Homo sapiens: one gene and its partners. The protein of the gene in region 2 interacts with the protein of the main gene of each other region in a pairwise test. Each region holds a gene or a part of one and is shown on either strand. Other genes may lie near its edges. The genes, in order: UPF2, TYMS and SH3GL2.

Region 1 (3,500 bases), on a different chromosome or scaffold from region 2:
TTGCTCTATACTTTTCTACTGTAGTCCTGGAGCCCCCAAATGTATCTTCTTCCAACGTGGGATGTTCAATTCAGAGACACTGAAACTCAAATCAAGTTTAAAGCTCAAGTTCATTTCCCCCACACCATTACCATCACAACCCGTTTCTTCTCTGGCTCAATCATCTCCTTCACGCTCTCCTTGGTGTAACTGCTCAGTAGTCAAGTGAACCATCTCATTTCTTGACTGCCATTCTCAAGAGAAGATTAACCCTCGCGAGATTTCCATTACAAAAGGCCTTTTCCGCCTTGTCTGGAAGCGTCGGCTTGTTCCGGTGTTGGCAGAGGCTGGTGTTTCTGCCTCCTGGCCCCAGCCTGTCCCAGGTTTAGATTCGCAACTCTCTAGACCGACCTGCTGAGATGTGTCCACTGCTCTCATTCAATTGCTGGAGGACTCCACTAACCACAACATCAGATACAGGACCTAATGAAATGACACGTGCTGCTGGATCAACGTCTCCTAAAGGAACAAACAGGGTCACATCAGAGAGCTTACTGCCACAGGACAAAGTCCAGCAAGATGGCGTCTGCAACGCTACCCACCACCACCAAGTCACTCCCCCAAGTTACAGGTGGCCCTGGCATCTGCGGGTTCCACATCCATGGACCAAAAATATTCGGGGGAAAAAAACCCAAACAATAAAAAATAACATAAATATTAAAAACAATACAGTATATCAACTATCTCCATAGCATCTACACTTTATTAGGTATTACAAGTAATGTAGAGATGATGTAAAGTACACGGGAGGATGTGCATATGTTATACATAAATGCTACACCATTTTTTACCAGGGACTTGAATGTCTGTGCATTTTGGTGTCTGAGGGGATCCAGGAAGCAACCCCCTGTGGATACCGAGGACAACTGTAGTGCTTTTTTGAGAGCATTCATGCTCTCTACTGAGCTACAACTTAACCAGAGCCATTGGAGCAATGGCTGGAGGAGTGGCTCTGTTCTCTTCTACAACTTATTCTTAAGGTGCTAAGAATTCACAGTTTGTGTTATGGTTCAGTTGTGTATCCCCAAAATTCACATGTTAACACTGAACTGCAGGACCTCAGAATGTGACCGTATTTGGAAACAAGGTTGCTGTAGACGTAATTACTTCAGATAAGGCCATACTGGAGCAGGGTGGAGCCCTAATCCCATATGACTGCATCTCTATAAAAAGGGAAATTTGCACACAGACACACACAGGGGGAAAAGGCCACGTGAAGACAAAGGCGGAGACCAGGGTGAGGTATGACAAGGTATGGAAGCCAAAGACTGCCGGCACCCCCAGCAGTAGAAGGCAGGCCTGGAGCAGTCTTCCTCCAGGCCTCAGAAGGAACCAGCCCCGCTGACTCCCTGACCTCAGGTTTCCTGCCGGCGGCCTCCAGTGCTGCGAGACAACAGACATCTGTCGTTTAAGCTACTAGGGCTGTAATATTTTGTCATGGCAGCCCAAGCAGATGAACAGTTTGTTTCTTACAGAGCAAGCTACCTTAGCAAGAAACTTTCAAAGCGTTAAGATGCAAATATGGAAAAGTATATCCTCAGCTGGATAAGATCCGTAACTCTTCCAGAAATGAACTGATGGAAAGAACACAAGTATTCCCTGAGGGAATGAAAGAGAAGATTCAAGCATCTCTCCTGAAGTCAAGAAAAGGCAGCTATCTAACCTAGAATACTTTAAATAAATGCAGTAAATGACAGGAAAAAAATGTTCAAAATCTTTGCTAAGTAAGGTATAGTTATATCACTAGTTATAGTGTAAGGTGTCATTTGACTGGTTTATAAGCAAACAATCATTCTGAGTGACTCAAAAATCTATCAGCTCAAAAACTGTTTATTAATACAATATACACTTTGGATTAAATGCAATTCTACAATGGACTCTATTGTATAACAAAACTATCACTAATTTAACCTTACATAAAGATATATAAAAAAAAAATCTGATGAAAAAATGCAGACTCTACTTAAGATAGGTTTACAAGAGTTCAATATCAGCCTGGGCAACATAGTGAGACCTCGACTCCACTAAAAATAAAAAAAATTAGCCATTTGTAGTGGTGTGTGCCTATAGTCCCAGATACTGAGAGGCTGAGGCAGGACTGCTTGAGCCCAGGAGGTCGAGGCTGCGGTGACCTGTGATCACGCCACTGTACTCCAGCCTGGGTGACAGAGCAAGAACCTGTCTCAAAAACAAAATAAAACAACAACAAAATCATTTTTAAAAAGATGGGTTTAAAAGTCAGATAGTATACTCCTATGCCGCTAAGTGTAGGCCACACACCAGCAGTTTTGACATCACTGGAGATCTTGTTTAAAAGTAACCAGAGCTTGTTGTGCTCACTTCAGCAGCACATATACTAAAAATTGTAGTGATACAGAGAAGACTAGCATGGCCCTGTGCAAGGATGACATGCAGGTGGGGTGCAGTGGCTCACGCCTGTACCCTCAGCACTTTGGGAGGCTAACGCAGGCAGATCACTTGAGGTCAGGAGTTTTGGAGACCAGCCTGGCCAACATGGTGAGACCTCATCTCTACTAAAAATACAAAAATTTGGCTGGGCGCGGTGGCTCATGCCTGTAATCCCAGCACTTTGGGAGGCCGAGGAGGGTGGATCATGAGGTCAGGAGTTCAAGACCAGCCTGGCCAAGATGGTGAAACCCCGTCTCTACTAGAAATACAAAAATTAGCCAGGTGTGGTGGCAGGTGCCTGTAATCCCAGCTACTCGGGAGGCTGAGGCAGAGAATTGCTTGAACCCGGGAGGCGGAGGTTGCAGTGAGCAGAGATCACGCCACTGCACTCCGATATAGCGAGACCCCATCTCAAAAAAAAAAAAAAAAAAATTAGCTGGGCGTGGTGGCACATGCCTGTAATCACAGCTACTTGGGAGGCTGAGGCACAAGAATTGCTTGAACTCGGGAGGCAGAGGTTGCAGTGAGCCGAGATCCCGGCACTGCACTCCAGCCTGGGCAACAGAACAAGACTCCATCTCAAAAAACAACAAAAAAGAATGACACACAAATTCGTGAAGCTTTCCACAATAATTAAAAAATAATAATAAAAGAAACTAATCAGAACTTGCTTTTTAGTAAGAGTCTAGAGAGTTAATACGTATTTTAAAGTTTGAGAAGCATTGAAATAACCCATATGAATTAGTACCATCTAAGCCATGTAAGTATTAACACTTGCCAAAAATGTTAAGTTTCACAGATTTTCAATACTAGTGTATTAGAAAAACAACCTTGTTCTGCAATACAGAAAACCCTACATAATAGTTTTACTTACAGCACTGCTGCCGTTTCAACTCATTGTAAGCAAATGCCTCTTATTTGTTAAAGGGCTGAAATTTTAATTTATGTCCTTATTTCAAGGATCTCCTGGTTAGAAAATATACAAATACAAATTAAAATCTGGGAGTCCATCAAAAGCTACAGGAGAAAAATAGTTTATGCCGGGCGTGGTG
Region 2 (3,444 bases):
CAGAAGAGGAAGGTTTCAAAGTAAAAGCTGGTTCATTTCTTACTTACACATATCAAATTTAAAAGCTAATCAGAGACTAAACTCTGCAATTTGTTTTCCCATATTAAAGAACTGAAGAGCTCAGTGTGGTAGGCTGGCAAGTCACCCTTCCCGAGACAGCCCACCTTCAGGCCCGTGATGTGCGCAATCATGTACGTGAGCAGGGCGTAGCTGGCGATGTTGAAAGGCACACCGAGGCCCATGTCTCCCGATCTCTGGTACAGCTGGCAGGACAGCTCACTGTTCACCACATAGAACTGGCAGAGGGCATGGCATGGAGGCAGCGCCATCAGAGGAAGATCTGAGGAACCAGCAGAGGAAGATAAGGAGGGATGGTGGTTTGAAAGACCACAGCTAAAGGCAAAGTAAAACAGGAGAGAAACAGAAGCCAACTCATATGGTGGAGACCAGGAGAGAGAGCCACTGGGCTGCAGTGATGTCCATAACAGCCTCTGCAGCGATGGCACGGAGCTGAGGGAGACTATCCATCGGTGCAAGGTTTCTGCAGGTGTCCATTTACGGCTGAAGCAATGCTCTTCCATCAGAGCTGAAGGGATCTGGGCTACCTCGTGGCACCAGATTACAAATACAGCAGGAATAATTCTGTTTGCCACAGGAAACTGGTGCTTCTGGTACACCCTCCTATATTAAAAGTCTCTATTACATGGCCAGGCACAGTGGCTCATGCCTGAAATCCCAACACTGGGACGCCAGGGTGGGCAGATCACTTGAGGCCAACTTGAGTTCGAGACTAGCCTGGCCAACATAGTGAAACCCCGTCTCTGCTAAAAATACAAAAATTCGCGCGCCTGTGGTCCCAGCTCTGGGGCTGAGGAATGGGAACTCACTTGAACCTGGGAGATGGAGGTTGCCGTGAGCGGAGATCACACCACTGCACTCCAGCCTGGGCAACAGGGTGAGACTGTGTCTCAAAAAAAAAAAAAAAATAAGTCTCTATTACAGATGCAAGTATTTCACTCTAAGTACTTATGATATCCTGATAGAGTTTTGTTGTTGTTGTTGTTTTTAAATATTCAGGGTCTCACTCTGTTGCCCAGGCTGGAGTGCAATGGCGTGATCATGACTCACTACAGCCTCAAATTCCTGGGTTCAAATGATCCTCTCGCCTTGGCCTCTGGAGTTGTTGGAATTACAGGTGTGAGCCACCACACCTGGCTCTACACCCTGGTAGAGTTGAATTTTACAATATAATTGTTAAAAATGTTAGTGAGGTGGCAGCGAGCTGGAACTTCATCTGCTTCCATTTAAAATGTTAACATCTTACATGTAGTTTCTAGGCAATTTAAAACCCTTTTTGGTGTAAGAATGAGTATAAATACACAAATTAAGATCATCTGGTTGGGAGGCTGAGGCAGGCAGATCATCTGAGGTCAGGAGTTCAAGACCAGCCTGACCAACATGGTGAAACCCCGTCTCTACTAAAAATACAAAATTAGCCGGGCATGGTGGCACATGCCTGTAATCCCAGCTACTTGGGAGGCTGAGGCAGGAGAATCACTCGAACCCAGGAGGCAGAGGTTACAGTGAGCCAAGATCACGCCGTTGCATTCCAGCCTGGGCAACAGAGCAAAACTCTGTCTCAAAAAAAAAAAAAAAAAAAAAAAATCCTCTGGGCCCAACCTCATGATCTGAAGGTGAAAGTGCAGCAAAATGTGACTTGCCCAACGTCACACAATCAACCATGTGGCTGGGGGAAGTTCCCAGGGTCCTGCCTCCCTCAGGTGCCTCTGCACAAAACCAGATTGCTTCCCTCTAAGAGTATGGTTAGTATAAATGAAGACGACGGGGTTCTTTCAACCTCTTGGATTCCAAGCGCACATGATGATTCTTCTGTCGTCAGGGTTGGTTTTGATGGTGTCAATCACTCTTTGCAGTTGGTCAACTCCCTGTCCTGAATAATCTGTAGAATTGTCAAAAAGAGAGGACAGGTACATACATTAATCACACATGTCATGAGATGGCCTTAGAGGTCATCTATTACAGTCTCTTACCCAGGGTCCCCCCTTGACCCATGGCTACAAGACATCTGGTGCATCCTGCAAAGTTTGCAGATCTCGGTGGGTTGAGTTCAAGGCCCTGTCTGACTCCTGGCTCTGTCCTCTGGAGCCCTAACAAAGTCTTTTTCCTCTTCTACACAGTCCTTTGAATATTTGGTCTGTCATGGAGTCACCTCCTCCTGTTCCCCCCATAGCTAACCCTTTCCAATCTCAACAATCTTAATTTCTTCCAGTGCTCCTCGCAAACTTAGGCTCTAAACCCATCAGCGATTCTTGTCACAATTTCACTGACAAAATCTACTTTATCCTTGTCTCACAGAGAGTGTTGTATCTTATGTAGAATATAGTATTCCATATACTTTCCAACTAACAGAGGACCATGGATTCCTTTCTATCACCTCAGCAGCATGTTTCCAACACTTCCACCTAAAATTACTTTAGAGTTTAGCAGCTCAACACACGACTGACTTGGAAACATCAGGAAACCTCTGTAATGATTACACCACCTTGTACTTTGCTCCCATTTCTGGTCTCTGGATTTTAATCCCTTTCCTTCCTTCTGAGATGGAACTGGAAGCTGAGAAGTGATTTGTTAACTGAAGTGCAGAGCTTCATAATCTCCTTTGGTTAAATTTCTACCTATTAGTGTCAGACTATATTCTGGTTCAGTAGTTCTCAAAATTTTGGGAGGAAAGTCCTCTCATGGTCACTGTTCCGAAAAAGGTAACATCAAAGATTTTAAAAAGATGAACCTTGGTAGTGTAGTTCTGTAACTTGATTGTAGTGGTTACAAGAGTCTACACGTGCTAAAATTGCAAATACACACATACACAAGTGCACGTAAAACTAGCAAAATCTGACAACTCTGAGGAATGCACCAATGTGAATGTATACAGGATGTTACCCAAGATATTATCACTGGGGGAAACTGGGTAGTGTGTCCAGGGAAACTTTCTGTGCATTAAAAAAAAAAAAAAAAAAATTCCTGTGAATCTGTAAAACAAAATTAAAAACAAAAAGGGACAAACTTTCCTACTAAAATCCAACAGCTAAGCATTCATACCACTGTAAACTAAAACCATAATTTTATTAGGCCTTTTAAGCGACAAGAAATAATTGAATACTAGGCAGGATTTAAAGCATCATTAAGCCCGGGGACTGGCCTCACATCCTACGGACACCCTACAACTGAGGTGCAGGCAACGACCTGCAGAACACTTACCTGCACAAGTAACTTGGCCCACGCAGCAGCTTTTTTCATTGTGATAAAGTACACATAATATTAAACTTGCCATTTTTGTGTGCAATTCAGAAGCATTAAGCACGTTCCTGATGTTAGGCAACCATCACCATCACCCATCTCCATCACCATCACCATCACCATCAC
Region 3 (3,731 bases), on a different chromosome or scaffold from region 2:
AAATTCATATGTGCATATGTATGTTGTGTATGTACATATGGACATATGCACATATACATACACTTACAAGCTCACAAATAGATTAATATACAGACACACAATTAATTAATTATAGGCACCAGTAATAGCAAAACTGCTAGCTTTTTAACCAAAAACCCACTTTTACATCCTGGGCACATAGCTAGGCTACACTTGCCTTCTTCCATTTCTCTTAGGTGTACCACAGAGGGGCCATGTTACAAGTTCCAGCCAACCAAACATAAACAGAAGGAACTATTCCTTCTCTTCATTTTCAGCTGTTGTATAACAAATTACCACAAATTTAGCAGCTTAAAACAATACCCATTTATTATCTTACAATTCTATAAATTAGAAGTCTGGGCCTGCTTAAGTGAGCTCCCTGTTGAGGGCCTCACAAGGCCAAAATGAAGGCGTTGGCTAGACTGGGCTCTTATCTGGAAGCTTGGGGGAAGAATTCCCTTCCTCTCAGATTCTTCAAGGCTGTGGGTCTAAGATCCCTATTTTCCCTGCTGATGGTCACCAAAGAGCTGATTTCTGCTCCTAGAGGCTGCCTGCATTACTACTCACATGGCCCCTCCCTCTTTAAACCAACAACAGCATGTCCAGTCCTGCTCATACTTCCAATCTCTCTGATTTTTCCTTCCACTACCAGCCAGAGAAAATATCCTGCTTTTAAAGGGCTCATGAGATTAGATTAAGTCCAATCATATAATCTCCCTTTTGTCTTACAAAGTTAAAAGTCTCAGGAATAACATCTTTTCAAATTGAACATTGCACCCACACTCAAAGGGGAGGAGAGTACACAAGAGCAAGAGTCACCAACAATCGTAGCATTCTGTCTACCATATTCCTCTTCCAGGCCTGGCTTATGAACATCTCCCATGCTTGTTCAAACATATTCTTTCCCTTTGGCAACCTTGAAAACCATATGTTACAGATGGCAGAACCGATCCAGGGTCATCCTGAGTCCCTGAAGCAAATAACGGGAAATATAAATGAAAAAGACTTTGAGCAACAAAGTACCATTAAGACTTCTTGGTTAAGCCAAAGTATCAGGCCCTCTTGTTAAGTTCAGAGTAACACAACCAAGTCTACTGGATGAAAATTAGGTCTAAAAAAGAATTTCCATCATAGAAATTGGCAAATGAAACTCACAAGAAAACACATCAGAAGCCTATTAAGTTGAAGTTTTTCTGGTTTTTTTTTTTTGGTTTTTGTTTTTTTGAGACAGTGACTTGCTCTACTGCTCAGGCTGGAGTGCAGTGGTGCAATCTGGCTCACTGCAACCTCTGCCTCCCAGGTTCAAGCAACTCTCCCAGGTTCAAGCTTCAGCCTCCCGAGTAGCTGGGACTACAGGCGTAGGCCACCATGCCTGGCTAATTTTTGTAGTTTTAGTAGAGAAGCGGCTTCACCATGTTGTCCAGGCTGGTCTTGAACCCCTGGCCTCAGGTGACCCGCCCACCTCGGCCTCCCAAAGTGCGGGGATTACAGGCATGAGCTACCGCACTTGGCCAGAAGCCTACTAAGTTTATGAAGAAATTTCATTACTCAAATCTACCATGGATAGTGAAAACCCTATGACTGTAAAACAATCCCCAAATTTAAATAAACAGGAAGTTGACTGAAAAGTTATGCCGTTCCCAAAGAGGGCAGATTTCCTCTAACCCTCCTTAGACCTGGCCAAATATATATAAGAAAGAACAAGAGTTCTTCCCAGATTGCAGAGCCAGATTGTAAAACCAAGGAACTTCCTCTACTGGCAGGCAGGGGATTTCACAATGCCCCCTGCAGGATGCCATCACTGTTATGGACAATAACTGTCCTGACTCCCCTTCTCTCCTTTCCTCACTGGAGTCATTCACTGTGGACATTATTTCCTGTACTTTTTGTTTTGTTTTGTTTTGTTTTTGAGACAGTCTCGCTCTGTCGCCCAGGCTGGAGTGCAACGGTGTGATCTTGGCTCACTGTAGCCTCCGCCTCCCAGGTGCAAGCAATTCTCCTGCCTCAGCCTCCTGAGTAGCCAGAAATACAGCTGTGCATCACCAAGCCTGGCTAATTTTCCCATTTTTAGTAGAGACGAGGTTTTGCCATGTTGGCCAAGCTGGTCTCAAACTCCTCAAGTGATCTGCCTGCCTCGACCTCCCAAAGTGCTGGGATTGCAGGCATGAGCCACCGCACCCAGCCGATTTCCTGTACGTTTAAAAGCATAGGCTATCTGCTTTATGTTTCTTTCAAGCATTATTCTGTGATACGGTTTGGCTGTGTCCCCACCCAAATCTCATCTTAAACTGTAGTTCCCACAATCCCCATGTGTCATGGGAGGGACCTGGTGGGAGGTAATTGAATCATAGGGGTGGTTACCGCCACACTGTTCTCGTGATAGTGAGTGAATTCTCACGAGAGCTGACGGTTTTATAAGGGGCTTTTACCCCACTTTGCTCTGTACTTCTCCTTGCTGCCGTCATGTGAAGGACATTTTTGATCCCCCTTCTGCCATGACTGTAAGTTTCCTGAGCCCTCCCTAGCCATGCAGAACTGTGAGTCAATTACACCTCTTTCCTTTATAAATTACCCAGTCTCGGGTATGCCTTTATTAGCAACATGAGAACAGACTAATACATAGCTTGATATTGAGATGTTTCTCAGCATTATAAAACTGCTTCCATTAGTATCTATGGGGAAAGGTTAGTTTGAATTATAAAAAAGATATTTCTATTTTTTATATATATCATAATTCAAAAAAAGGCAGAAAACACTGCCTAGAGGTCCTTCAGTGTCCTAAGTATCCAAGTAAACCTCCATGGAGCTGTGGGTTCTTCACGAGTATTACAGACAGCTTCTCCATATTCATTACTACTATATACAATTTGACCCAGGGGATGGCGGAGGGAGATTAGGGTAGAGCAACTACAACATCATATTTGGCATTTAGAAGTTGTACTAAATGTAAAACCTTTATAAATAGTGAAATTATTTCCTGAAGCATTTGTCATCAGCTAATGATTTAGTATAGCATGAAAATATTTTGTTGGTAGAATGCAAAAGACTTGGCAGGGTCTCACAATCATGGCATTTTAATAAGTATAGTTATAGCTCTCTTTAGTCTTTATTATCCATCGGATACCATGTACATCATTCTTAAGCTTTTAGGCTCCTTAAGTGATTATGGAAACAATAAATTCTAAACCAAAAACACTGAGAAGGGTTGTACTACAAAGTTTCAAAACTTCACATGTTGTCTCCTGCTGCCTCTTGCTGCCTCAACATTCATTCCCACATACGCTAACTGTGAACACCCCACCCAGGTAACCAGGTGCACAAGTTTGATAAGGTTGGCCCCTACCACAAGTTCACCTCTCTGTCTTCTTCTGACCACGACCTACCAATGCACCAATGCAACGCACTGTGAACTGCACTGAGCTGTGAACTGCACTGAGATCACTAGTAAAGGCACTTGCCCACAGTCCTTGCTCTCTCTGCTCCCACCTGTTTCCCACCTGCTTAGCTGATCCTGCTCTCAGAGCTGTCACCTCCACCCCACGTGTCCCCCCTCCTATCCTCCTGTACAGTGATTGTCATTCTAAGACATGTGAGTATAATAAACTCTGTTTTCTTGAGCCTCTCCTATGTCCCCTCTTGTGGCTACACCTCACTGAACATTACCTAAAAGAACACAGGACAAGGGTACGAAGGATTAAAAGAACAAAAAG

Evidence for each region.
Region 1: the proteins of TYMS (region 2) and UPF2 interact in a two-hybrid assay, tested with the Homo sapiens proteins (one large-scale study listed by BioGRID).
Region 3: the proteins of TYMS (region 2) and SH3GL2 interact in a two-hybrid assay, tested with the Homo sapiens proteins (one large-scale study listed by BioGRID and IntAct).

What each region holds. Positions count from the first base shown.
Region 1 is NC_000010.11:11,920,810-11,924,309, forward strand, and holds part of UPF2 (regulator of nonsense transcripts 2), read right to left. Parts: intron 499-3,500; coding exon 489-498; 3' UTR 1-488. UniProt on the Homo sapiens protein: Involved in nonsense-mediated decay (NMD) of mRNAs containing premature stop codons by associating with the nuclear exon junction complex (EJC).
Region 2 is NC_000018.10:667,588-671,031, reverse strand, and holds part of TYMS (thymidylate synthase), read right to left. Parts: exon of another isoform or gene 3,353-3,444; coding exon of another isoform or gene 3,280-3,352; intron 1,961-3,279; coding exon 1,859-1,960; intron 715-1,858; exon of another isoform or gene 341-714; coding exon 165-340; exon of another isoform or gene 1-164. UniProt on the Homo sapiens protein: Catalyzes the reductive methylation of 2'-deoxyuridine 5'-monophosphate (dUMP) to thymidine 5'-monophosphate (dTMP), using the cosubstrate, 5,10- methylenetetrahydrofolate (CH2H4folate) as a 1-carbon donor and reductant and contributes to the de novo mitochondrial thymidylate biosynthesis pathway.
Region 3 is NC_000009.12:17,585,399-17,589,129, reverse strand, and holds part of SH3GL2 (endophilin-A1), read right to left. Parts: intron 1-3,731. UniProt on the Homo sapiens protein: Implicated in synaptic vesicle endocytosis. May recruit other proteins to membranes with high curvature. Required for BDNF-dependent dendrite outgrowth.